3 separate regions of the Homo sapiens genome follow, and regions 1 and 3 are each linked to region 2. Evidence: fine-mapped expression QTL. Tissue or cell type: unexposed skin. Region 2 holds a variant in brackets; each other region holds the start of a gene. All regions are shown on one strand. Distances are between the middles of the regions.

Region 1 (8,103 bases), 36 kb after region 2:
AGATTATGAATTTGCAACTACAAGAACTGACTAACCAAATGAGGCCTTTTAAGAAAAGACAGGGCCTCCTTCTAATGACAAAAGGGCTGTTTGCTTCTACTGTAAAAAGCCTGGCCATTTCAAAAAAGATTGTAGAAAATTTAACAGCAGGACCAGTGAAAAACCAGGATCCCACATGATGAACAGGATTGCTCTGATGATCGAAGGGAGGTGTTCCTATTTCTACTAATGCCTTAGGAGAAATGGACATTGCCATAAATGAAGAACAGACACATGCCCTCAAAGACACTGGTGCCACTCTTTTCGTCCACTTTAAGTTGTCTCCTTCCTTGGAGTAATGGAACTGTACAAACGGTAGGGTTATCTCATCAGCCTATCACTGGATACAAGTCCAAGCCCTTAGAATCCCAGGGCCCTCATTCTTTTCTTCATTCCCCCACCTCTCAGACATCTCTTAGGCAGACATTTTGTGTTGGAACGTCACAATGCATGCTTTCCTTCTCCCAAAAGGAAGAAATGGATTTAGGTTTAGAATGGAAGGAGCAAATGGAAAAACTACAGAATGAGAAATTACTGAAATTATAAAAATACAGATCAAACAACTTTTTTTTCAACTGGCACTAATGACACGGATGGCTTAGGGCAAGCTTTGTCAGACCACTTATGGTCAGAGTCTTCCACCGACATTAGTAAAATATATTCAGCCACTTTCATTAAAGTGGAAGTAAACCTGATTAATCCTTTACCCAATATCAGACAATATCCTCTAAGGCCTGAAGCAAATGAAGGAATAAGATCCGTAACAAAAGACTATATTAAAAGGGGTCTAATTATTCCTTGCGCCAGCATGTAATACTCCAATCCTTCTTGTAAGGAAGCCGAATGGGAAGAGCTGGTATTCTGTACAAGATTTGAGAACCGTCATCAACACTGTGATCCCCAGACATCTGGTAGTACCAAAGCCCCATCCTCTTTCGGCAGCTGGAAGTGAGACACTGTGACTCATTTATGTAGTGCCTTCTTTAGTATTCCAGTGGACCTAGAGTCAGTATTTGTTTGCTTTTACTTGGGATGACTGCGAGCATATCTGGCCTATCAGGAAATATTGCTGATGAAACTGCTGCCTCCATCACAGCCCAACAAAAAGCTACTGACTCACTGGCTAAGGCTGCACTGGACGACTGCATTGCTTTCGATTATTAGCTGAGCAAGCAAGTCTATGTATGGTGGCAAATACCTCTTGATGTGCATAAACCCTTTCCACGAAGTAGAAACTCATATGGGAAAAAGTACAAGCCACTAGGCTACACTATTCTGAACAATTCTCCATTTGATTTTCTTCGTAATACTTTTAGTTGACTCCCTCGAATAGGTTCCGTTTTTCATTCTGGCATACACATTCTCTTTTTCATTGTAATCCTTATGTGCACCGTACTTGGTAACATTTTTGTTTTAATAGAGATGGAGTCTTTCTGTGTTGCCAGGTTGGTCTTGAACTATCAGGCTCAAGTGACCCTCCTGCCTTGGGCTCCCCAAATGCTGGGATTACACACAAGAACCACTGCCTGGCCAGCACTACAGTTCTACTATCGAAATTATTAATGCTATGCTATGTATCTCTGGCGGTTTTTTTTTTTTTTTTTTTGAGACAGGGTCTCACACTGTTGCCCAGGCTGGAGGGTAGTGGCCTGATCATGGCTCACTGTAGCCCCTACCTCCTGGGCTCAAGGAATCCTCCCACAGCAGGTGCCACCATACCCAGCTAAGTTTTTTGTATTTTTTTAGGGGAGAGAAAGCGTTTCGCCATATTGCCCAGACTGGTCTCCAACTCCTGGGCTCCAGCGATCCTCCTGCCTCGGCCTCCCAAAGTGCTGAGATGAAAGACATGCGCCCCACACTGGCCTCTGGATGTTTGTTACTCCTGAGAAAACTAAAATCATGGCACTCCAAAGACTAGAGACGATTCAACAGGCAAGAGCAGGGATGAAATGCACGCAGCGACTGAGGTCTGGCTTCGCGGCTCTGTGACCCCGGTTCAGCTTCTGAGCGCCTGGTTCCTTGGCGGGACGCCTCCTCCTTTCCCGCAAGACCAGACACGACTGTCTGGGAAGCAGCGTTTCTGGGGCGCACCTTGACACTTGGATTTGGATCAACAATGCTTTCAAGAAGAAAGACTTTTGATCAAAAGCGGGAAATGAGAAAGCGACTTTCCTCTGAAAAGTGCCTCCCAGTCCCGAGGCTGCGAGGCCCCCACGCCAGGCTGGCTCCCACGGAAGCCGGGCACCCACCCGGCCCGACCAAGCGCCACTCCGCCCCGTGGACGGGGCGTCCCACCCCGGGGACGCCCGCCCCACACCGCGTTTGCACCCCGGAGGCCCCTTGCCGCAGAGGCGGACGGCGCGCCTCTCCCGGGCCCCTGGGGTCCGCGCCTCCCTCGGGCAGACTCTTTCGACTCTGCTCGAGCCTCCGCTTCTTCCTGCGGGCGGACGCCCCGGACACAACGGGCCCCGCTGTTCACGCAGGGGCGCCCCGGCGGGGCGGGCAAAGACCCGGGGACGCGGTCCCGTCCCGAGACGCTCAGCTCCGGCCCACCGCTCGCAGCTCCCGCCCCGGGCGCAGGTCCCGACCCCACGGGCCGTCTCGGAGCCGCAGCGGCCGCTTCCCTGCACGTCCTCACGCCCCCCGCACGGACGCCGCCAGCCCCGCGCCTCAGTTTCCCCACTAGCAGGATGGAAAGACGGGCCCCGCCCCGAAGCGTAGCGGCGTCTCCGTGGTAGCCAGTGCCCAGAGAGTCCGCCGGTCCCACCGCCCCTTCAAAGGAGAACCCGGCCCACCGCCCGCCGCGGCGGCGACCGCGCAGCCCACTCGTCACGCGGCCCGCGGCGTCCAGCCCGGGCCGGCTCACCTCAGGCGGTCGCTGCCGCCCTCGCGCCTGCGCGCCCCTCGCCCCGCCCCTCTCCCCGCCCGCGTCCCGCGCACCGCAGGCCTCTGCCCCTCGCCCACCGCAGGACCCGCCCCGCGCACGCGCCGCACGTGCCACACGCACCCCACGCCCCTGCGCACGCGCAGGCCCCAAGTCGCGGCCAATGGGCGACGCGGCCGCAGATCCGCCCGGCCCCGCCCTGCCCTGTGAGTTCCTCCGGCCGGGCTGCGGGGCTCCGCTCAGTCCGGGAGCGCAGCTGGGCCGCGGCGCTCCGACCTCCGCTTTCCCACCGCCCGCAGCTGAAGCACATCCCGCAGCCCGGCGCGGACTCCGATCGCCGCAGTTGCCCTCTGGCGCCATGTCGCAGAACGGAGCGCCCGGGATGCAGGAGGAGAGCCTGCAGGGTGAGGCGGAGGAGGCGGCGCGGGAGCCGAGGGGGCGCGGGGGGGAAGCCTGGGGAAGGCCAAGAGGGCGCCAAGGGGAGGTTGCCGGGGAGGCCTAGGGGGCATCGCGGGCCGGGCGAGGCTGCGCCATCCTCCCCTTCCGTACCCACCCCTCCTGCGGGCATGCGGAGCCCGGGGCGTGGGGACCCCGCGTACTGCCCGGGGTTCGCGGCCTCGCCACTCGGGCGGGGGTTGGCTTGGACCCGGGTCGGACCGCACGGGAAAGCCCCGATTCTCCAGCTCCGCGCGAGCTAGAATTCCACCTGGAGGTGAATCTGCGTCTCGCAGTTGGACCGAACAGCCTCAAAGTCCACGTTGCCCTCCGCGGTCTGTAGTTCAGACCAGTATTGGTTTTAATGACCAAACACCAAGGCGTGGCAAGTGGCCTGTTATGAGCTTTAATTTTGTTATTAATGTTTATATCCATGGTGACTGTTAGGATTTCCTCAAGGGTGAACGCGGAGATGGGAGGGGGTTACAGCGTTTTTAAAATATGGCATTAAATGGGCATGTTCCAATTTCACTAGAGGGTCGTTCCAAAACAAAGCTTTAAATGACTTACGGGTTAAGAAAACACAAGCAAAAGGACGCTGCCCGTGCAGCACTCAGTCGTTACAGCCTGCCTAATGCCCGAGTAGAGGCTCGCTGTGTGCCCTTGGCTAGATTCGCAAGACCATCCGTTCACGCAGCGGGAAACGCAGGCCCGGGGTGCAGGACTTGCCCCACGCACAGCCGGGTGGCGTGGAGACCCACCCCACCCGGTGGGTCCGCGTCAGAGTCCAGACGAGCCTTTGCTCAGGGAAGCGGGCACTGAAGCCGCCTTCCCAGGGTCCCTAGGGCCAAAGCCTCGGAGGAGGGACCTGGTGGCAGCTGACCTTTGTGTTCTTTGAAGCCAGAGTTTACTAAGCAAAATTAGCATGTAAATAAGCTTGGGAAAGGACTGCTGAAACCTCTGACAGTGAACTTTTAATCTTCATTGAGAGTTTTTAAAACCATATATTCACATAAATTTAGTGAGTTGCTAATTTTATTACAAAAAAAAAGATTTTACTAGGCAGGACTTAGTTACCGTAATATATTGAATAATATATATATATACATATGAACACTACAAGCTTTTTTTTTTTACCTTTTTTTTTTTTTAAGAGACGGGGTCTCACTGTGTTGCCCAGGCTGGTCTGAACTGGGCTCAAGCGATCCTCCCGCCTCGGCCTCCCAAAGTGCTGGGATTATAGGCCTGAGCCACCAGGCGCGCCTGGCCTAAAACCATATTCTTTAAAATCCTGTAATTCGGATTTTTCCTCTTGAAATTTAAACATTGGCTAATTACTATTTTGAAATAGATTAAGAGGTGTTTTCCTATCTTTTGTCATAAAATAAAGTCCAAGGGATGTTTTTATAAACTCTTTGCCATAAAATCACCCATTTTCCGGTTGTGAAGCCGCGTTACTCCTGACATTGTGCGTTTCACTGTCCGGCTGGGATCTGGGCGCTGGGAGGTGGAGGGGGCTCCGGGGGGCTCGGTCCTCTCTCCAATATGTAACTTACACAGGCTGCTGAGTCATTGGCAGTGCAAGGCGGCCAGCGCCGGAGTTACGAGATTTTTGTTTTTCTGTTTTGTTTATTCTATAAAAAGATAGTTACCCGCGGGGTGGATCCCATGTAGGCGATTCCTTGGGCCGCCCTGAGTGTCCGCGCGGCAGGACGGGGCCACTGTGGGCTCGGCGTGGGCGGGGTTGGCCGGTCCCGCGGGCTCCAGCTGCCTGCAAATCCGGGACGGAGCGGTGGCTCAGGCAGCGCTCACCTCTGCCTGTCCGATTTCACTGCCCCTTGTTGACCTCGGAACAGAGAACAATGGGAGCCTTGCAGCCAGACCCACGGATGGAAGCAGCAAGCACTCTCTCCTCTGAGTGTACCCTCTGGGGCCAACTGCTTTTCCTAAAGAGTTAATGGCAAAATGGGCTGATTCTGTTCCTTTCTATCTCTTGATCATTCTAGCTAAAGTTGTTGACTCGCAGGATGCTCGTATTTGTCCTTTTCCTTTTTTTTACAAGCCCAGTCTTACTCCCCCAGGCTGGAGTGCAGTAGCACAATCATTATAGCTCACTGTAGCCATGAACTTGGCCCTTTTCTCCTAGACATGTCACTGCTAACATGCAGGAGAGGTAGGATTCTGTGACGAGACCGTGTCACGGTGGCGGGGGCATCACTTCCTTGAAGGACCCACTGTCTTCACCAGGAGGGCATCAGTTCAGTAAAGTGCATGCCCATTTACTCTGGAGGGCCGTGTTTAATAATCCAAGCCCTCACCTCTTCACCCACTGCTGTGTCTGCAACTGGCAGATGGTTCTCTCTCTTGTCAGAGGCAACTCACCATGGGCAAAGTTGTATGAGGGGAAAAGATGTTTTCTACTTATTTTGGAGTGGAGTTGTAGCATTGTGTGCTTTGAGACCTGAAGGGGTTGCAGACATCGAGATTCTCGTCCAAGACTTGCATTTCATAGATGGTCACAATGAGGTTCTAGAGGTGGAGTGAAAGATAAGGCTGGCAACAACACTTAAGGAGAAGCCAAGGTCTCTGCATGAGGCAGCAGTGGGATACCTGGAGCCCAGATGCCTGAGGCTGCGTGCAATAGGCCCTGGAGGGTCCTGGAGGAGAGGAGGCCAGAGGTCCTGGAGGCAACAGGAAGGTGGAGGGAAACGAGCCCCGTTGGAAGCCAGGGACCTGATTTACCTACCCAGCTGACTTGATACTTGAAATCTTTTGTCAGGCGGGTCTCTTTTGTTCTCTCCCCACTAACCTGAGAAGCTTTAAAGGTAAAACAGCAATTTCTTAGAGCCCACCTCCCCTGGGGAAGAAGCCCTTTGTATGGTTTTGGGGTGCTAGTTCCCTCGGGGGTTCACAGCTCCTCTGCTTCAGGTTTTTTTTCTGGGATGCTGCCTCCCTCTGTTCTGACATTTATCCCAGAGCTTTTTCAATCTATTTGCCTGGATTCCACCCCAGCATCCCAAATAGTCACTTTCAGAGTGGGCTGAGGCTAGGCTTTTGGAGAACAATGAAAAAACACCACAGGTGATTCTCCCTTCATAGCCAGAGTTGAGGTTGTCACCCCAGGTTAGGGCATAGGGTGGCCTTGAGAACTTGGCCCTGTGTTTACTCCACGTGGGGCTCGTGGCTGTGGCCCATGAATCCATGTTGAGGAATGGGACCCAGGGAGTTGCCCTGGGACATACAGAGGGCAGTGAATCGAAGGGATTCCCTGGAGTCTGTCACTGGAGGGAGAACTGCTTTGGGCACCTAGAAAAGCTGGATGTCAGATGATTTTTTTTTTTTTTTTTTACACAAAGTGAGAATAAGAAATGGATTAAGAACTCTTGTTGGACTGTATTTTGTCTCTGAGGCAGACCTATCAGTTTTCTTTTTGTACTGTGATATAAATATTTATAGTCTAGGCTTTTCAAAATCTCATCTACCTTGATATAGGAGGGAGGTAAGATTTACTGGCTGTGTGTCTTGTTAGCAATGTAAATTATAAGTGAGTGAGGAGGGGGAGGAACATGAGAGGGACGCGAAATGAGATTAGGAAGGAGGGCTTTTCTTGCAGCAGCAACAGCAGCACCTTTCCGTCTGGGGCCTAATTATACTACAGTGATTTGAAGTGTAAACTGCTTGTGATTATGAGCAAGTTTTCTAAGGTTATTAAGCAACCTTACTGTAAGCCCATCTTTCTTTGAAAAGGTGAACGATCCGAGTGGAGAACTGTAACACGTGAGTAGATACACAGCACGCTCCATTCTCCAGGAAGTGCCTTCCTTTCCTACGCGGTTGCTGTGGGTTAATAATAAAACTCCTGTCCCTTAGTAAATCATTCCTGGGAATACAGCTTTTGGGCCCAAAGTCATTAGCCATGGACAATCTGGAGTGAGTTTTTTTTCCTTGTTTCCTGGATTTTTAGGTCCTTTCTGGGGTGATGTTTAAAAAGCACTGCTTTGGTTCGAATGTGTTCCTCCATGTTGCCAGTGGGATGGTAGTAAAAGGTGGGCCTTTAAGAGGTGGCTCGGCCATAGGGGCTCCTCTCTAGTGAATGGGATTAGTGCTCTAAGGGGCTGGATGGAGGGAGGTGGGTCCCTCTGTAGCCTCATTGAAGGGATGAGGCAGGAAGGCCCTCAGCCGACACCAGATGTTGGTGCGTGGATCTTGGACTTCCCAGCCTCCAGAACAGAGATCAGTTTCTGTTCGTAAATCACTAAGTCTGTGGGATTCTGTTGCAGTAGCGCAGAGGATGACAGAGATACACTTGTCTCTCCTTCATCTTCCTCTCCCTGTTGTCTTCAGCCTGCCCCTTGTGTGATAGATTACAGTATGTGTTTGGTCTTGACCCTACCTACTTCCTGGTGCAGAGCACCTAAACCCCTGGGGCTTCCTGAGCAGTGTCTTTTTTTTTTGTTTGAGACACAGAGTTTCGCTATTGTTGCCCAGGCTGGGGGGCAGTGGCATGATCTCGGCTCACTGCAACCTCCCCCTCTCAGGTTCAAGGGATTCTTCTGCCTCAGCTTCCCGAGTAGCTGGGATTACAGGCGCCCACCACGCCCAGCTAATTTTGTATTTTTAGTAGAGACGGGGTTTCACCATGTTGGTCAGGCTGGTCTCTGACTCCTGACCTCAGATGATCTGCCCGCCTCGGCCTCCCAAAGTGCTGGGATTACAGGCATGAACCGCTGTGCCAATAAGTGTCT
Region 2 (8,103 bases):
GTCCTGTGAAGACACGAGTCCCTTAGAGAACGCGCACACCCGGCAGATCAGTGGTAACAAGGGAGCAGGTGCTCAGTGAGTCTCTAGGCAATGACCGCTGCAGCATCTGGAGGAGAGTGTGAGCCCGAGGTCTGGGCCAGGCTTGGGAGGACTCAGGAGGCAGAGAGAAGAGCCAGGGCACTGGGGCCAGGCTTGGAGACGAGAAGAGCAGGAAGAGCTCGGCAGAAGAGGGCTGCCTAAGAGAAGAGCTCGGCAGAAGAGGGCTGCCTAAGAGACACAGGTGGAGGTTGAGCTCCTGGGTTTTTACCCAGAGGAACTGGAAACGTGTCCACACAAAACCTGCGCGTGGATGTTTACAGCAACTTTGTTCATACTCACCAAAACTTGGAAGCTGCTGGGATGTCCTTCAGCAGGTGAGTGGAACCATCAGTTGTGATTCATCCCATCAAGTGTGGTTCAGGGTTAGAAAGAAATGAGCTATCAAGCCAGGAAAAGACATGAAGGACCCTTAAATGTACATTACTCTGTGAAAGAAGTCAATCTAAAAGGCTACACACTGTATGATCCCAACTCTTTGACATTCCAGAAGAGGCAAAACTATGGAGACAGTAAAAAGATGAGTGGTTGCCAGGGGACAGGGGAGGGAGGGAGGGAGGAACAGGCAGAGGATAGAGGACTTGGGGCAGTGAAAGTGCTCTGCGTGTTACTGTCGTGGGGGATACATGTCATTACACATCCGTCGAAACCCATAGAATGTCCAACACCAAGAGTGGACCCTAACGTGGACTCTGGATGATAGCGATGATGGCAGAGGCGGCCCATCTGGAGCGGTGGCTGCCATCATGCTGGGTACAGTGGGGAGGTGTGGCTGGGGCTGCATATGGGCTGCACACTCCACAGAGCCGGCGGGAGCCAGGGACAAGTGGGATCCCTGCCCCTTCTGAGTTGATCCCTGCCCCTTCTGAGCAGGAGCTCTGTAGGTGCAGCCACAGCCAGCCAAGTTGTGGCTGCAGACCGGAGCCTGCCACTACAAGGAGCAGACAAGAGCCCTGCCCACCCCCATCAGGCACAGCTGCAGCTGCCCAAGTCATGGCTGCAGACCTGGGCCTCCCTGTGTTCTTAGGGGGACTGGAGCAGGCAGGAGCCCCGCCCTCCCAGGCTCAGCTGCAGCCACCCAAGTCACAGTTGTAGACCTGGGCCTCCTACTCCATGGAGAAGGCAGGAGCCCTGCGGCCCCCACCCTCCAGGCGCAGTTGCAGCCGCCCAAACTGTGGCTGTGGACCCAGGCATCCCTGCACTCTTGGGGGCCCAGGAAGGCATCCCCCTGCCCTCACAGGCTCAGAAGTGCCTGCTCCCACTGCCTGGCTTCTCCCTGCTTTCAGTGTTCACTCCAATCTCAGAGCAAAATTGGGGCCAAGCCCGGGTGCTGTCACAGCCCGGTTGGGTGTGCATGCACGTGGAGCACTGCTGACATGCCAACCCCCTGCTGCCTGGCCCCCTCCAGACTTTGGGCATTGACGAGCTTGGGAGGGAAGCCGATGGGGTCTGAGGGCAGGTCTGTGCTGGCCTGCAGGCAGCCCTTGGCACCTACAGCCTGGACACTATGAACAGCAGCAGGAGGCAGACAGGCTCCCGGATGGAAGGGGGTGGGTCCCTGGTGAGAGCCCACCTTTAGGCCAGGGAGGGCCTGAAGGCTAGGGGCAGGGCTGCCAATCCTGCAGACCAGAGAGGGGACTTGTGGTGCCTTTTCCAGGCCTGCCCATGGCCGCCCATGGACCAATTGGTACGCACTTCCTCCCCTCTGAGGCCCATAAAAGCCTGGGCTTAGCCAGAGCTGAGCAGACGTTGGGATGAGCAGTTACAGAGAGGAGCTACTCACTCCAGGGCCTCCTGTGAGCTATTCTGTCACTAAATGAAGCTCCTCTTCACCTTGCTCACCCTCCATTTGTTCACATACCTCATTCTTCCTGGACACAGGACAAGAACTCAAGACCTGCTGAATGGCAGAGCTGAAAGAGTAGTAACACAAACAGGGCTGAAACACACCCCTTGCTCTCCATGTTGCAGGTGAAGAGAAGGAGAAAAGAGCTGTGGCCCTTCAGGGAGCCCAGTCCTCGAAGCTCCCTGAGCCAGGGCTGTAACTCCCTCTTTGGGGCCCTGTGGTTCCTGGAGTCTCCAAGCTTCCAGCACCACTGCATTTCCCAGTGGCAGCCTTGGAAGCTGCTTGCAGTGCACCTGGTCCAGCCACAGCCTCACAGAGAGCCAGCGCCCAGGCCAGAGCCAGGCTGAAGAGAGAGGATTGGTTGAGGCCAGGAGTTCAAGATCACTCCGGGCGACATGATGAGACCCCATGCCTACGCACACACAAAAATAATAAATTAAAGTTTATTAAAAAAAAAAAAGAAAAAAAGCAGGTGAGGCCTAGTCACAAATACAGATGAGAGCCCAAGTCCACGTCTCATGCTGAAGATCTGACTTTACCTGCCTTTGGTGTCTCTTTAGATAGTTCCTCTCCAGCAATTTAAGCTGCAAGTGTTTAGCACCTCTAAGAGTCCCACAATGAACAGCATCCCTTTTCCTTGCTTGAGTATTGAACAGAGAGAGAAATAAAACAAAAGCAGATGGAGCCCAAAATATTCCCCTTGTTACTGGCAATGGCTAATTTGAGCAGTGGCTGAAAGTCAGAGTTGAACAGTTAACCAAACCCCAGAGAGGAAGACACCTTCCCAGATCGCTGTGGGTCCCCAGCCCTGGGCACCCCTCAGCCCCTCAGGCTCCTCATGCCCCTGAACCCAGCCCAGGCTTCTGAGGTCCCAGGATGGCTCCATGTACAGCACACTCCCAGGGAAGGAGGCTCAGACGTGGGGACCCCCCACCCAGGGAAGGAGCCCCAGAAGTGGGGACCCTCTCCTAAGGAAGGATGCTCAGAAGCGAGGACCCCCTCCCAGGGAAGGAACCCCAGAAGTGGGGGCCGTCTCCCAGGGAAGGATGCTCAGAAGTGAGGACCCCCTCCCAGGGAAGGAACCCCAGAAGTGGGGACTCTCTCCCAGGGAAGGATGCTCAGAAGCGAGGACCCCCTCCCAGGGAAGGAGCCCCAGAAGTGGGGACCGTCTCCCAGGGAAGGATGCTCAGAAGCGAGGACCCCCTCCCAGGGAAGGAGCCCCAGAAGGATCGCTGGTCATATGGTATTTCTGTTTTAATGTATTTGGGAGCCTCCATGCTGCTTTGCGTAATGGTGGGAATATAGAATGCCATAGCTATTTTGAAAAAGCATTTTTCATTTTGAGGTATAATCTAAAAACAAATAATGTTTGATCATGGTTCATATGAGGCTGTAAATCTGGTATAAGTCTGGAGAGTTTTCCCACCTTGGGCAAGGATGAGTTTGCCCCTAATTATCTTTGAGGCAGAAGATTGGCAGAACGTGAGATGGAGACTGTTGGCAGGATTCAGTATGATTCAGTAATAAATAGCATTGACAGAGAAAAATAGAGACATGGAGAGAAAGGGAGAGAGAGAATATGAATCTCATAAGAGGAAAATCTGCTGGATATCAGTGTTGGGTTTTCAGTCACAGAGACATCTGTATGAGCGAGGAACCATGAAGTCAAGTGAGGAGTGGAGAATATGTCCAGTCCAAAAATCAGCATGTTCTCAGAGGCACCCAGTGCCCCATCACACGGGTGAGAAATGTTTGAAACCAGTGATGTGTGAGTGCACAGTAAGTGATAAAGGTATCATGTCTCCATGAACTTTCATTAATAAGACAAGGACTTCTGTAGATCACTCATGCACAAATATACAAAATGTGTTTTTGCATTTGTGAATGTTTAGAGAAAAAGAATCTGTTGAGAAAACTTCTTCGGTTACAGAGAGTCTAGCACCTTCTAAGCATCTGAATAGGAAATATTTGTCATCTATTGTCTCTGAGGGCAGCCACTATGAGGCTTCAAAAGAAACTTGGGCTCCACAGTCTTTTATCTTAACCTGAATATTTCCTTTCTATAGATCCCAGGACTTTAGACAAACTCAACCAATTGTCAACCAGAAAATGTTTAAATTTACCTGTAGCCTGGAAGCCCCGCCCCCCACTTTGAGTTGCCTGCCTTTCTGGACCCAACCAATGTATTTCTTAAATGTATTTGATTGATGTCTCATGACCCCCTGCCCCGTAGAAGATATAAAACCAGGCTGCACCCCGACCACGTGGGGCGCAGGTTCTCAGGACCTCCTGAGGGCTGTGTCACGGGCCATGGTCACTAATGTTTTGGTCAGAATAAATCTCTTCAAATATTTTTCAGAGTTTGACTCTTTTCATTGACAAAAGTAAAGTGAAGGAACAGCTACTCCATAGACAGAGTAGGGTGTTCCCAAAAGTAAGAGGAGGAATGTGTCCACCCACAGTACAATACTTGTTTATACACACGATAAAAAAAGATCATGGGGAGATGTGCTCTGCTATGAGGGTTTGTGATGAAGAGTTACTGTTCTTAATTACTATATTTTGCAAGAATCGATATTATCTTTAAAGCAAAATAGGACTGCTTCTGTTCTCAAGATATCGGGATATCAGGACACTCCTATGTCTGGATCTGTTTAGTAAATGTTGTCAATCTGTTCCCTTGAC[T/C]ATAAACATCCAGAGGCTGGGAATACCTAACTTTCCGGCCCTGCAGCCCAGCAAGCCCCAGCCTCCTTTCCCAGCCCTCACTGTAAAAAGTAAAGTAGAGGTTCCTCTTCAAAGACTTTCCTCCCCATCTAATTAGGAATAAATAGCAACTTCTCTTAGAGGCAAAAATTTGTTCAAAGACCTGTGCTAACATTCTTAAATATCTGCTAGCTGTAATAAAGAAATCAATGTACTTTAAGTTCTTAGCTCCCCCAATTTAGCCTAAATATTTGCCCTGGCATGCTTATACTAGCCTGAGCAAGCATTAGGTCAGAGCCTGTTCCTCTTCCTTATTTGAAGGTGTTTTTACCTTCCTCAGCATTCCACAAGTTACTTCCTCCTTTCCTTGTTCTCCTATGACTTTGCCTCTTTTAAAAAGTTCTAAGTTGCAGCCGGGCGCAGTGGCTCAGGCCTGTAATCCCAGCACTTTGGGAGGCTGAGGCGGGTGGATCACGAGATCAGGAGTTCGGGACCAGCCTGGCCAATGTGGTGAAACCCTGTCTCTACTAAAAATGTAAAAATTGGCCGGGCATGGTGGCGGGCACCTGTAATCCCAGCTACTTGGGAAGCTGAGGCAAGAAAATCATTTGAACCCAGGAGGAGGAGGTTGCAGTGAGCCGAGATCGTGCCATTGCACTCCAGCCTGGGTGACAGAGCTGTTATAAGTTGCTAGCCAACTGGGACAAAACCAGAATGTGAGGTCCCGTTCCAGCCAATGGAAACCGGACACAGACGTAGGGTGGACACGTCAGGTTATAAATGACCCTGCCTCCTTTGTTCGGTGTACTCTCATGGCAAAACTGCTGGGAAGTGTACCCTTTCTGCAGAAAGTAAAAAAAATGCCCTTGCTGAGGAAATTAAATTTATGTTCAAGTGCTATTTCTTTATGGCACCGGGGAATAAGCATTACGAACACTCACTCACGAGAGAGATGCTGTGATTTGAATGCCCCTGACATGGGTGTTCATGGTGGAGGGTGTCCAGGTTCTCGGTGTCTGGAACAAAGAATTGGACAAAACCTACAAACAAAGCAAGGAAGAGATGAAGGGATCTATTGAAAATGAAAGTGCACTCCACAGTGTGCGAGCGGGCCTAAGCATAGGGGCTCAAGGGCCCCGTTAAAGAGTTTTTGTGAGTTTAAATACCCTCTACTTGGGGTACGTCCTATGTAAATGAAGAGGATGAAGTAAATTTACAAAGTCATTTACTCGGTGTATGCCCTATGGAGAGGATATTTCCTGTTATAGCTGAAGTGTGAATCGGCCTCATGCTTCCTGCCTGCAGACCCTATTTTCCTGTCTCATATCCCCCCAGTATGTGATCCCCATAAATCTTTATGGGAGGCAGAGGGACCAATGGTCTTTTTTCTGTACTGCTTCATGCTGACTTGGAGCGTAGTCCCTTCCTATTGGGAATCATGGAACTCTCGCCCTGCTCTGTCTAGTGGAGGAAGGGTAGCTGTTTGATAGCCAGGGGTGGTGTCTTCACCTGGAACTGGCTGGAACATTTGTTGCGTGATCATCTGAGGCTTGATGGTCTTTAGGCGAGAGGAAATAAATTTGGTTAAAAGATTTCATAGGAACTTCGGAGGTGGATACCCATGCAGTCAGAAATGTTCGTTATAGAGATTTGCAGGAGAAAAAAACAAAACCTGGTCTGTTCTAGAATCTATGTGTTTCCTTAAAGTCTTAGCACAAGTGACTCCATTTGGGTTTGGTTTGGTTTGTTGGGGCCTAGTGCATGAGCTTAGTCCAAAACAATGGCCTCCCAGAATTTTGTTTAAAGAATGCCTCCTTTTTGGTCAGGTTCTCACTTCGGCGAGAGAGTGACCAAAGCTTAGGGGCTTTACACCACTCTCAGTTACCATCATTTTGGGTTTCCAGTCTCAGCACATCATTTATAGGTTACGGGGCCCTCGTGGTTGCACATTTATTTTAGCTCCTGCTATTTCAGCTGAAGAGAGACCATGTGACATTCTAGAGATAGCTACACAGCATTTACAACCTGAGAGAACACAGCGCGCCAGGGAGACTATTATTATGACTACTGGGAGGATAATACCAAGAGTTTGGAGTACGCCCCTTAGCCAGGGTTCTCATAAACTGAACCTCTTAAAATCAGATAGATCAAAGAAAGAGCTACATAAAAAGCTCACTCACTTGACTAAGCAATTTCTTCATCCATCTCCTACCACTGAATTTCTATAATCTTCATTTGCTGTATTTCTCCATAGGCCACAAGTGCCAGCAGCTGCACAGATATTTCTCTGGTCAGCCAGTTCTATTATAACTTTCACAAGAGAATTTAAAGTCTGTTGCGTAACTGTAGCCTTTACAGGAGAATCTTCTATAAAGCCTATCATGAGGGAAACATTTCTTTCTTTCCTTTTTTTTTTTTTTTTTGAGATGGAGTCTCGCTCTGTTGTCCAGGCTGGAGTGCAGCGGCGCGATCTCAGCTCACTGCAACCTCCACCTCTAGGGTCCAAGTGATTCTCGTGCCTCAGCCTCCCGAGTAGCTGGGACTACAGGCACACGCCACCACGCCTGGCTAATTTCTTGTATTTTTAGTAGAGACGGGGTTTCACCAGGCTGGTCTCCAACTCCTGACCTCATGATCTGCCCGCCTCAGCCTCCCAAGAGGGATACATTTCTAATCATTGCTTCTTTTATTTTAAATCATGGAAAAAGGACCCAACAGATGATGCCTTTTTAGAATAGTGAAGACCTCCTGGCTATGTTCTCTTTAACCCATGATGTGGGTTCAGAGGAGTGAACCAATGTTTTGTTTTTGATTGATTACGAGGCAACGTGCGTACCAGTAAAATTTCTTACCTACATTGGGCCTTCATCTTTTATCTATCAAAGTATAAGGTTATCCATGTATAAGACTGGCTGCAAACTCCTTCACAAATAAAAGTATAACCCATAAGTGCACATAATAGACCCTTTTCTACTTCTAGTGTTCGTAGAGGTATAAGCAAGAAAAAGTATTCAAAGAGAAGTTTCATGACAGAAGTCTTAATCTGTGAACTCGGGAAAAGCTGTTCACAACAAGGATGCCATCCTCGTCTTGGGAGAAATTTCCCTGATTATTTTTACCTTAAGGGTTCCAACGGGTGCACAGCTCCAAGAGTGTGGAGGGACCCTTCTCAGTTGTGACATTATAAACCCAAAGTTCAAGGTCCTGAAGTTTTGTTGTAGTGTGGATGGCAAGGACAGTCTTTCTCTGATGTTCCCAGAAGATCTGAACCATAAAAAGCCTTTTTTCAACCTGGTGAAAATATACTGTGACAAAATAATCTACTGTTATAACATCAGTCCTCTTGCATGGGAAAGATTTTATACAACCAGAACACATACATCAAAAATAACAACTGAATGAAATCCCTTTATAAAATGTTTAATGGCTCACCAGGTGACCAAATGTATCTGAAGCTT
Region 3 (8,103 bases), 50 kb before region 2:
TGTCTGAGCGTGGCTGTCAGCTGGAGAAGAAACCATCTCCTCTCTTCCTGAGTTTGCTCCAGCCAGCACTGCAGCTGCCCCAAAACTATGACATGTGCCACCATGCCCAGATCATAGGGCCTTTGGGGGCTCTTTTAAAAGTCATAAAGACTAAGCTCTTCTTAAAGTACACAAGCATCTGTGAAAACTGAAAAGGAAGGTACCAAGGTCTGTTTCGGAAGCTGGACTCCCCTCCCCTTTGGACTTCAGGAATGAGTAGACAAACGCATCTACATAAAAGGAAGAGGGTCAAAAGGCCTTCTAGGAGCTCCACTGCTTCACACAGCAAAGATCACGCATGGGATTAAGGATCTGAAGACATCAAAAAGCAGCAGAGGGTAAGAAGTGCTGTTAAAGGGAGGACAGAGGACAGGTCGGGCGCGGTGGCTCACGCCTGTAATCCCTGCACTTTGGGAGGCTGAGGCAGGCGGATCACCTGAGATCAGGAGTTCAAGACCAGCCTGACCAACATGGCGAAACCCCATCTCTACTAAAAATACAAAATTTAGCCGGGTGTGGTGGCGGACACCTGTAATTCCAGCTACTCGGGAGGCTGAGGTAGGAGAATTTCTTGAACCAAGGAGGCAGAGGTTGCAGTAAGCCAAGAACGCGCCACTGCACCCCAGCCTGGGCAACAAGAGTGAAACTCTGTCTCAAAAAATAAAAATGCAACTAAAAAAAAAAATGGAAGACAGTGCTGTTTAGACAGAGGTAGATCAGGTGGAGACACTCACTGGGAGTTGGTGCCCGAAGCCCCCACAGGGTGGTACATCAGCAGCCGCACCTCTCACCGCTCCTGATGCCACCGGCCACCTGCCAGCCCCGTGTCACTCTCTAAGGTACAGGGTAGGCTGCAGAACTCCCCATGTGGGTCACACTCTACTGGGGACCGAGCCCCGTCTGTGCTCCCATTGTGCCCTATGCCATCAGTGCCCACACACAGGGTGCTGGTACCAGTGAACATTGGTGGAATGGATAAGCAGCAAGGGCGGGCTCAGGAAGCCCCCACCTTCCCAACCCAACATCACCACCTCACTTTCACACTTTGCTTCTTTTTGCTAAATGTCACTGGAAGGTCCTTCTGTCCATGGTTTCCTCTTCTTCCCACTCTGAGACCAGAGCCATGCTGCAGGCTATCAGGTGCTATGCACCTGCCAATTGCGCTCTTTAATGAAACTCTGAAATGGACATGGCCGCTGGACACAACAGGAGGTTGACCACAGAGACCTGCACGCAGGGGGGGATGCCAGACCTACATGTGAGACAGCTTCAAACAGCAGAGCTTCAGCCCAAGTCCTAACTCCTCCCCATCGGAGCTCATCACCAAAACACCCAGGAGCCCCCTGAGAAGGTTGTCTGGGGGGTCCCTGGTGAAGATGGGATGGATTCCAGGCCCCTTCCTGCTCAGACCCACCCCACCACCATCAGGATAGTACTGGATCTCAGCTTAACACGAAACAGGTCAGTGGGGACCTGGGAAAACGTGTCCTTGGGGGTGTAACACAGACCCAGTGTCCCTTCAGAAGAAAAACCGAGGCCTCCAGACCCCTCCCCTGGCCTCCCACCCCTGGCTGGGTGCTCAGAGTCCTCCTCAGGCAGGAAGACCTGGGGTCCTTCAAAGTCAAAGTAGTCCTGGGTCAACCACCCACCAGGCAGGTGGATGTCTGGGAAGAGCAGCAGCTGGGGAAAGTTTTAATAAGCTCCGTGCCCAGGAAGAATGGCGCCTGGGTAGGATTCCTCCTTACCCAATTAAACACATTGGACCAGTCCAGCTAAAGGCGCTCCCCTCGAACTCAGCCGCAGGCCGAGCACTAAGGCCAGTAAGGTCTGCAAATCCTCCTGATCCAGTCACATCCTTCATCCTGAGCTGGCCGGAGTCACTTTCCCTAGGTTTGAATTCCGGCTTCACTTTGAGGCCCGGTTTTTCTGGAGACCAATTCTCTGTGCCAAGGAGAGGGTTTCCCATGATGCCCCTGCCAGCTGTGCTTGCTTGGAAACTGGCAACCACAGGACATTCCTGATGTCATGTCCTGGGGTCAAAAACCCAAGGCAATCAAGAACTCAGCTCCTGAGAGCCTTCCAGAGGGACCCCAAAGGAAAGTAAGCATGGCCCTTGCCTGCAGCACAGGTTTGATAAATATAAGACGTCTGCAAAGAAAGCAGGCCCAGGCAGCTCCTGGGGCTAAGGTGCAGGACAGGAGACACCTCCAGTCTCCGGCTCCCAAAGCACGTCTACCTCACATCGCTCAAAGCCCAGCTTGGGGTGCCAGACCAACAGGGCTATATTGAGATAAGAAACACCTGCCCAAGAGGTTCATGGATAAGAAACACTTGCCCAAGAGATTCATGGAAGAAGCCTAGGAGGCCAACATAGGCTCTTTCAAAAAGAGTCATCTCAGTGGCTAGTGTCCTGAACTTATTCAATCCCCGTACTAAAGAGGGCCGTTTCAGGGTCCAAATGGAAAATTAACACCACCATCCAGCCACATCCTAGCTTGCCTGTCTGGAAACTCAGGAGTCAAGGAAAAATAAAAAGATATGGCATTGGTCCTGAATGGAATTCAGTTTACAGAAGCCCACAGTCCACACGGAAGCCACAGTGCACACGGAAGCCCACAGTCCACATGGAAGCCCACAGTCCAGACCACGCAGAAACCCACAGTCCACACAGAAACCCACAGTCCAGTCCACACGGAAGCCCACAGTCCAGACCACACAGAAACCCACAGTCCACACAGAAACCCACAGTCCACACGGAAGCCCACAGTCCACACGGAAGCCCACAGTCCACACGGAAGCCCATAGTCCAGTCCACACAGAAGCCCACAGTCCACACGGAAGCTCACAGTCCAGACCACACAGAAACCCAGAGTCCACACGGAAGCCCACAGTCCACACAGAAGCCCAGAGTCCACACAGAAGCCCACAGTCCAGTCCACACGGAAGCCCACAGTCCACACGTAAGCCCACAGTCCACACAGAAGCCCACAGTCCAGTCCACACGGAAGCCCACAGTCCACACGGAAGCCCACAGTCCACACGGAAGCCCAGAGTCCACACGGAAGCCCACAGTCCAGTCCACATGGAAGCCCAGAGTCCACACGGAAGCCCACAGTCCACACGGAAGCCCACAGTCCACATGGAAGCCCACAGTCCAGTCCACACGGAAGCCCAGAGTCCACACGGAAGCCCACAGTACACACGGAAGCCCACAGTCCACACGGAAGTCCACAGTCAAGATCAACCTTCCAAGAACATGTATAGGACACTTACTTCTCTTGGAGGAGCTCGATCCAAAATACGGGGGCAGAGGCACAGCTCTGACTGACAGCTCCCTTGCTGTGGGACCACCACCTGGTCGTTTGGATATTGTTAGTTAGGACCTAAAGTAGTAAGGCCTTCCCAGGGCTGTCGGGAGAGAAGCAGGAGCTCCGTGCATGTTCTCTGCCACAGCGTGCCCTTAGGTTTCACAGGGGTGCCCTCAACTCACAGGAGAGGCAGGGAAACCTCGGGAATAGCAGGAATGCCAATGCCCTCCCCCCACCCTCAGCCTTGGAGAAGGAATGTGAATGTGCCAGGCGTCTTGTCTTCTCCAAGCACATATTGATCATATTGATCTACTCTGTGGGACTCTTAGGGAACCTCATCCAAACGCCAGCCTTTTGCCGGTAATGCTGTGAATGTAAACTGAGGGTCCTTCCTCGGCCCGGCTCACTTTCCTCTTCTGCTGCTCTTCTCGGGAACTGAGGTGGCGTTTTACCACGGACCTGCTCAAAGGCCCGATCCACTGAGAGGACTCTCAAGTCTACTACTCCAGGCTTGGCTTGGAATGAGAAAACCGTTTTGTGACTGGTTCTCCCACACTGTGAACAACAAAATCAACGGCAGCAGCAAGTATTTACATCCCTAGGGTGCCTGCATGGTTTCCCGGCCAGTCTCACTGACATCTCAATAAGCATCAGTACAACAACGTACTGCCAAGTTACCTGTGACACCCTTTCCACCGCAGCCCTGCCAGTCCCAATCAGCAGTGGATTTTCTTTGAACAACTGTAGAAACTGAGGCATGGTGCAATAACCTCAAAGAGTGAATTAGTAAGTTAATAAGCTGTTGTTTCCCAAAAACCTGGAGTTCCTTGCATAAGAAGTTATATCAATGAGTGATGTGTGATTCTTGATTAAGTTTTAAAGAGAAGACACCATCCAATCAATGCGCAGGTAGGTGGTGAGGCCTCAAGCCATAAAGATGACCTATTCTTCAAAAGGAAAACAAGCAGCAAAAAAGTCCAGCCGGTTACCCCACGGAGCCAGGAAGCACCCGGACGCCGCAGGCCTCCCGGGCTGTGCAGACAGCTCTCTGGTGCTATGTCCGTGGGATTCTCACCACAGCCGGCAATACACAGACTCAGCCTGGCTTCCCCAACCCACCCCACCACGGCTGCCGTGCCAACAAGCATCCGCTTTACATATGGGATGGAACACACACCCATGCTTTAAAGGAGAAACCTACTACTGGGAACGCAGGCCCAAGCCTCCTCCAAATGTGTGCATGAGCATGAACGTGAAAACGGATAAATGAAGCATCTTCCTCTGTGATCGTCCCTGCACCCCTCAGAGGACAGACCCCAAACTGTCAACTTTCCAGCCACATACGTGTGCGCACTAAATACAGAAGAGCACCAGGTGGAAAGAGCCTGTGCAGAGACAGCCAAACCGAAACCAACAAAGCCTCTGCAGCAGTCAGAAAATAAACACTCACATTCCAAAGCTCGCTGTCTGCTCCTCTCTCCCATCGCTCTGCTCGACTGTGAGAATCTTTCCCGGCTCGTCCAAGACTCAGTCCGGCTTTTGCGCAAATCAGCTCCGAGCTTCTATGACTCAGCAAAGAGCTCGGCTTTTATTTTTCAGATGGAATTTACCACGCTGTGACTACATCCAGGGGGAGGAACCATTTCCCCGAGCTGTTTCCAAGCAGAGCCCTTGAGCCAGGATCGCCCAAGCTCTCCCTGTGCACCTTAAGGCCAAGCACAGAGGCATCCTCTGAGCCCCCAGCCCAGCTCCCTGCAGGGCGCGAACAGACGCTTCTCGGTGGGGAAGGGGCCCGCAGCTCTGCACGGCCGGGCGGCCGAAGGCACAGCCACGCAGGTGAGATCCTGAAGGCAGCTTGGCTCTATTCAGATGCAGAGGCGGCCTGGGCTCCGGGTTGGCCCGGCGGCAGTCTCACGTGAAAACCAGCGAGCGGCAGAGGCCACGGCTGGGCCATCCCTGCCCTCACCGCCCCCTCGGCTTCCTGGCTGCTCCAGGACCGCGTTCTGGCCGGCTTTCCCTCCTGCTTGGAGAACCCCCTTCAAGATTGCAGAGTGAGCGGGTCAATAATAGGAACGAACTTCCACTCTGAGGGTATCTATTTTAAATGTCAGGTGATAGAAGGGATTTGCACACACTCAACACTGAGGACTGAAAATGCAGACGGGAACCAGACACAGGAGACCAGCAGCATTCCTGTGTGAAGGGCAAGCACGAGAGCTCACCTGGCCCGCCAATCCCACACGCAGTCCATAATCACCGTCCGGAAAAGCCGTGTGACAGCCGCTCTGTAGAAAACGCAGGGTCTGACAGGGTTTCCAAGCAGGAGGCCGCTTAGAGTCCATCTGGGTCCGATTCCATCAAGGCAGCCTTGAGGGCTGCCGGTGCGGGTGGCCTGAAGCTCCTGCCCTGCCCTGTCTCCGGCCACCAGGGCCTGCGCTGAGACTGCATCGGAGCCTGGACCCCAGAGCAGGCCTGCACGCCCAGGTTCTGGGGGTCAGCCTGGGAGGACCCTACATCCCCCCTGCTCCCAGCCCGCTCTGCCTCAGTTCCCTCGCCTGCACCCTGCCTGCCCCCCACAACCTGCCTCTTCTAGTCAAGGCCAAATGTCACTTCACCCCAAAGCTGAGACCGGCAGGCATCACCCCGAGAGGAGCCCACAGAGTGAACGCCGATGATAACATGTCAGAGGATGGCACAGGGCAGGCCAGGACTTCGGGTTACTTCTGCTGTCTGTCTAGATCTGGCCACCCTCATAAGTTAGAGCAAGCAAAAAATTGTCCTGATTAAAACCATGGCCACACGTCTGGCCAAACGTCCAGGGTGATGCAACAACCCTCCAAGGGTCACATGTCCTGACTCGTGTGACGGAGCCGCCCGCTGTCCCTGGTTACCAACCATCGCTGCCTCTATGTCACAGGGGAGGAGGCTGGAGCGCCAAGAGGCCATGCGGCTGCCCCACAATCACATCCCTGTCAGGTCCCGGAGCTGGATTCAGACCCGGAACGGTGGGTCGGAGATCCAGACCCCTCCCGTGTTGCCCTGAAGCAAAGAGGGTTCCCATGCCGGCGGCTCGGGGTCCACGCCCGACCCCGAGGGTGGCTCCTCCTCAGTCGGAGGCAGGCCACGGGGACAACCTTCCTGACGAGGGCAGTGCCCCCTCAGCCCAGCTGTCCTCCTGCTGGAATTGATCCTGGGGAAACAACACAAGGATGGTGTGTGCACAGATTTGACTTTAGTCCAAATACTTTATAGCACCTACCCCGTGCCAGGCGCTGTTGTAAGCCTTTAAATATAACTCACTCAGGGATGCTTACGGCAGTGTTGTCCATAATATAACAGGGAATAATTGGAAACATCCTAGACGTCCAACAGAGGAGTGATTTAACAAGCGATGGGAAACGCACATACGTCCAAATACAATGGGGCCATTTAAAAATGTCCCCAGTCCAAGCTTAACAGAAAGACGTAAACAACCTATTGTTTAAGTTTTTTAAAGTCAGCCATAAAAAAGCTGGTATCGTATGCTCACATTTCTGTTTAAAAAAGTGTGTATAGTATGATCACATTATTTGTTTTTAAAAACGCGTGCCTGTGTGTGTTGCACTCAAGAAAAACAAAGCCTGAAAGCGTAGATACCAAGCTCTAAAGTGGCCATAGCTCCAGGTGATAGGATCTCAGGTGACTTGATATTTTGTTTTGTATCTTTCTGAATTGTATGTATTTTTTTTGTAGAATTGGAAACAATATTTTTAGAATCAGAAAAAACATCTACTTTCATTTCCAAACAGATGCACATGCGTGTATGTGCTTTTGATTCCTGCAGTAAACGTGCCCCTTGCAGACGGTCCGTTCTCTCCCGGAGCCCAGAGGGAGACACTGTCCCTTCCAAATCCCCACGCTGGCTGAGGCGGAGAGCAGGTGGGTGCTGGGCCGGGCTGACACCCGGCGTTCCAGCTTAGGGAGCAGCCTGCTCTTTAAATAGCATCCATTTTTCTAGTTGTAAAAGTGAAATGTGCTCATTGTAGAGAATTTGGAAAACACAGGAATAGATGAATAAGAAAACCATCCTTGCTAGTCCTCAAGAAGCTGAGCTTTGAGCCTCCCAGCCACATTGCCAGCTCCACCCTAATTCTTCCAGATCCCAGAAACCGAGCCCCAGCACCTGGGATGGAGCCAGCACCCCCAGGACGTGTTCTGAGGAAAAGAGGCTTAAACAGCAGGCCTCACTTGTGTCACAGGGTCTGGGAAAACCACGACCTCCAGTGGGTCTCTATGTCTCACGTGGCTGCCTCACCAGGCACCACGAGGCCCAAGTCTGATCCCACAGCCCGTCCCTGGCTTCCCTTTCCCACCCACGGGCAGTTGTCACCTGTCCTTTCTGGGGGAGCTTGGCCACTCCCATGATCACACCCAAATCCAGGGCTCTGCTGCTCCATCGCTGATTCCCAGACCCACCCGTCCTGCTGGCCCGGTGTCTCCATACAATTCCTCGGGGGCCTCTCAGACCCGGCGGGTCCAAAAATAACCTGCCCTGCCCCAAACTTCACTCTTCCTTCTATTATATTGCAGGTCCTGACACAGCCATTCACCAGTTATTATCCAAGCAAAAATATGGCTGCCTTCCTTTTCTCCTCCCTTCCCAGACAGGCCTGCGCCTTCCAGGCCCTGCACACAGCTGTTGGACCCACCACCCCAGCTCCCGTCATGCAAAGGCACCTCCTCCTGGAATCCTGCCAGGACTGCCCCCAGGGGCTCC

Which allele goes with the higher level. Alleles are on the strand shown, and positions count from the first base shown. SD is a standard deviation of normalised expression in the study named. Not every link is listed here.
In carriers of allele T in region 2, the expression in unexposed skin of the gene that starts at base 3,165 in region 1 tends to be higher than with C alone (small effect, 0.30 SD a copy in GTEx).

What was found. PIP is the estimated chance that this variant, and not a neighbour inherited with it, causes the effect.
Region 1: it holds the start of BNIP3, and the variant in region 2 is fine-mapped to the expression of BNIP3 in unexposed skin (GTEx, PIP above 0.99). The same link has a PIP of 0.9 or more in sun-exposed skin.
Region 3: it holds the start of JAKMIP3, and the variant in region 2 is fine-mapped to the expression of JAKMIP3 in unexposed skin (GTEx, PIP above 0.99). The same link has a PIP of 0.9 or more in sun-exposed skin.

The regions. Positions count from the first base shown.
Region 1 is chr10:131,976,985-131,985,087 of GRCh38, reverse strand. It overlaps BNIP3 (BCL2 interacting protein 3), which reads left to right and starts at 3,165. Exons shown (of 6, transcript NM_004052.4): 1 at 3,165-3,327. The coding sequence starts at 3,282. RefSeq lists silencers at 2,495-2,614, 2,655-2,844, 2,895-3,194, 3,425-3,654 and an enhancer at 3,062-3,986.
Region 2 is chr10:132,012,740-132,020,842 of GRCh38, reverse strand. No RefSeq gene overlaps it. Among named protein-coding and RNA genes, the nearest start is that of BNIP3, 35 kb to the right of the region's middle. RefSeq lists an enhancer at 718-1,389. The variant T/C (reference allele first, on the strand shown) is at 4,628.
Region 3 is chr10:132,062,756-132,070,858 of GRCh38, reverse strand. JAKMIP3 (Janus kinase and microtubule interacting protein 3) reads right to left here and starts at 4,913. Exons shown (of 24, transcript NM_001323087.2): 1 at 4,798-4,913. RefSeq lists enhancers at 2,614-3,114, 5,389-6,136.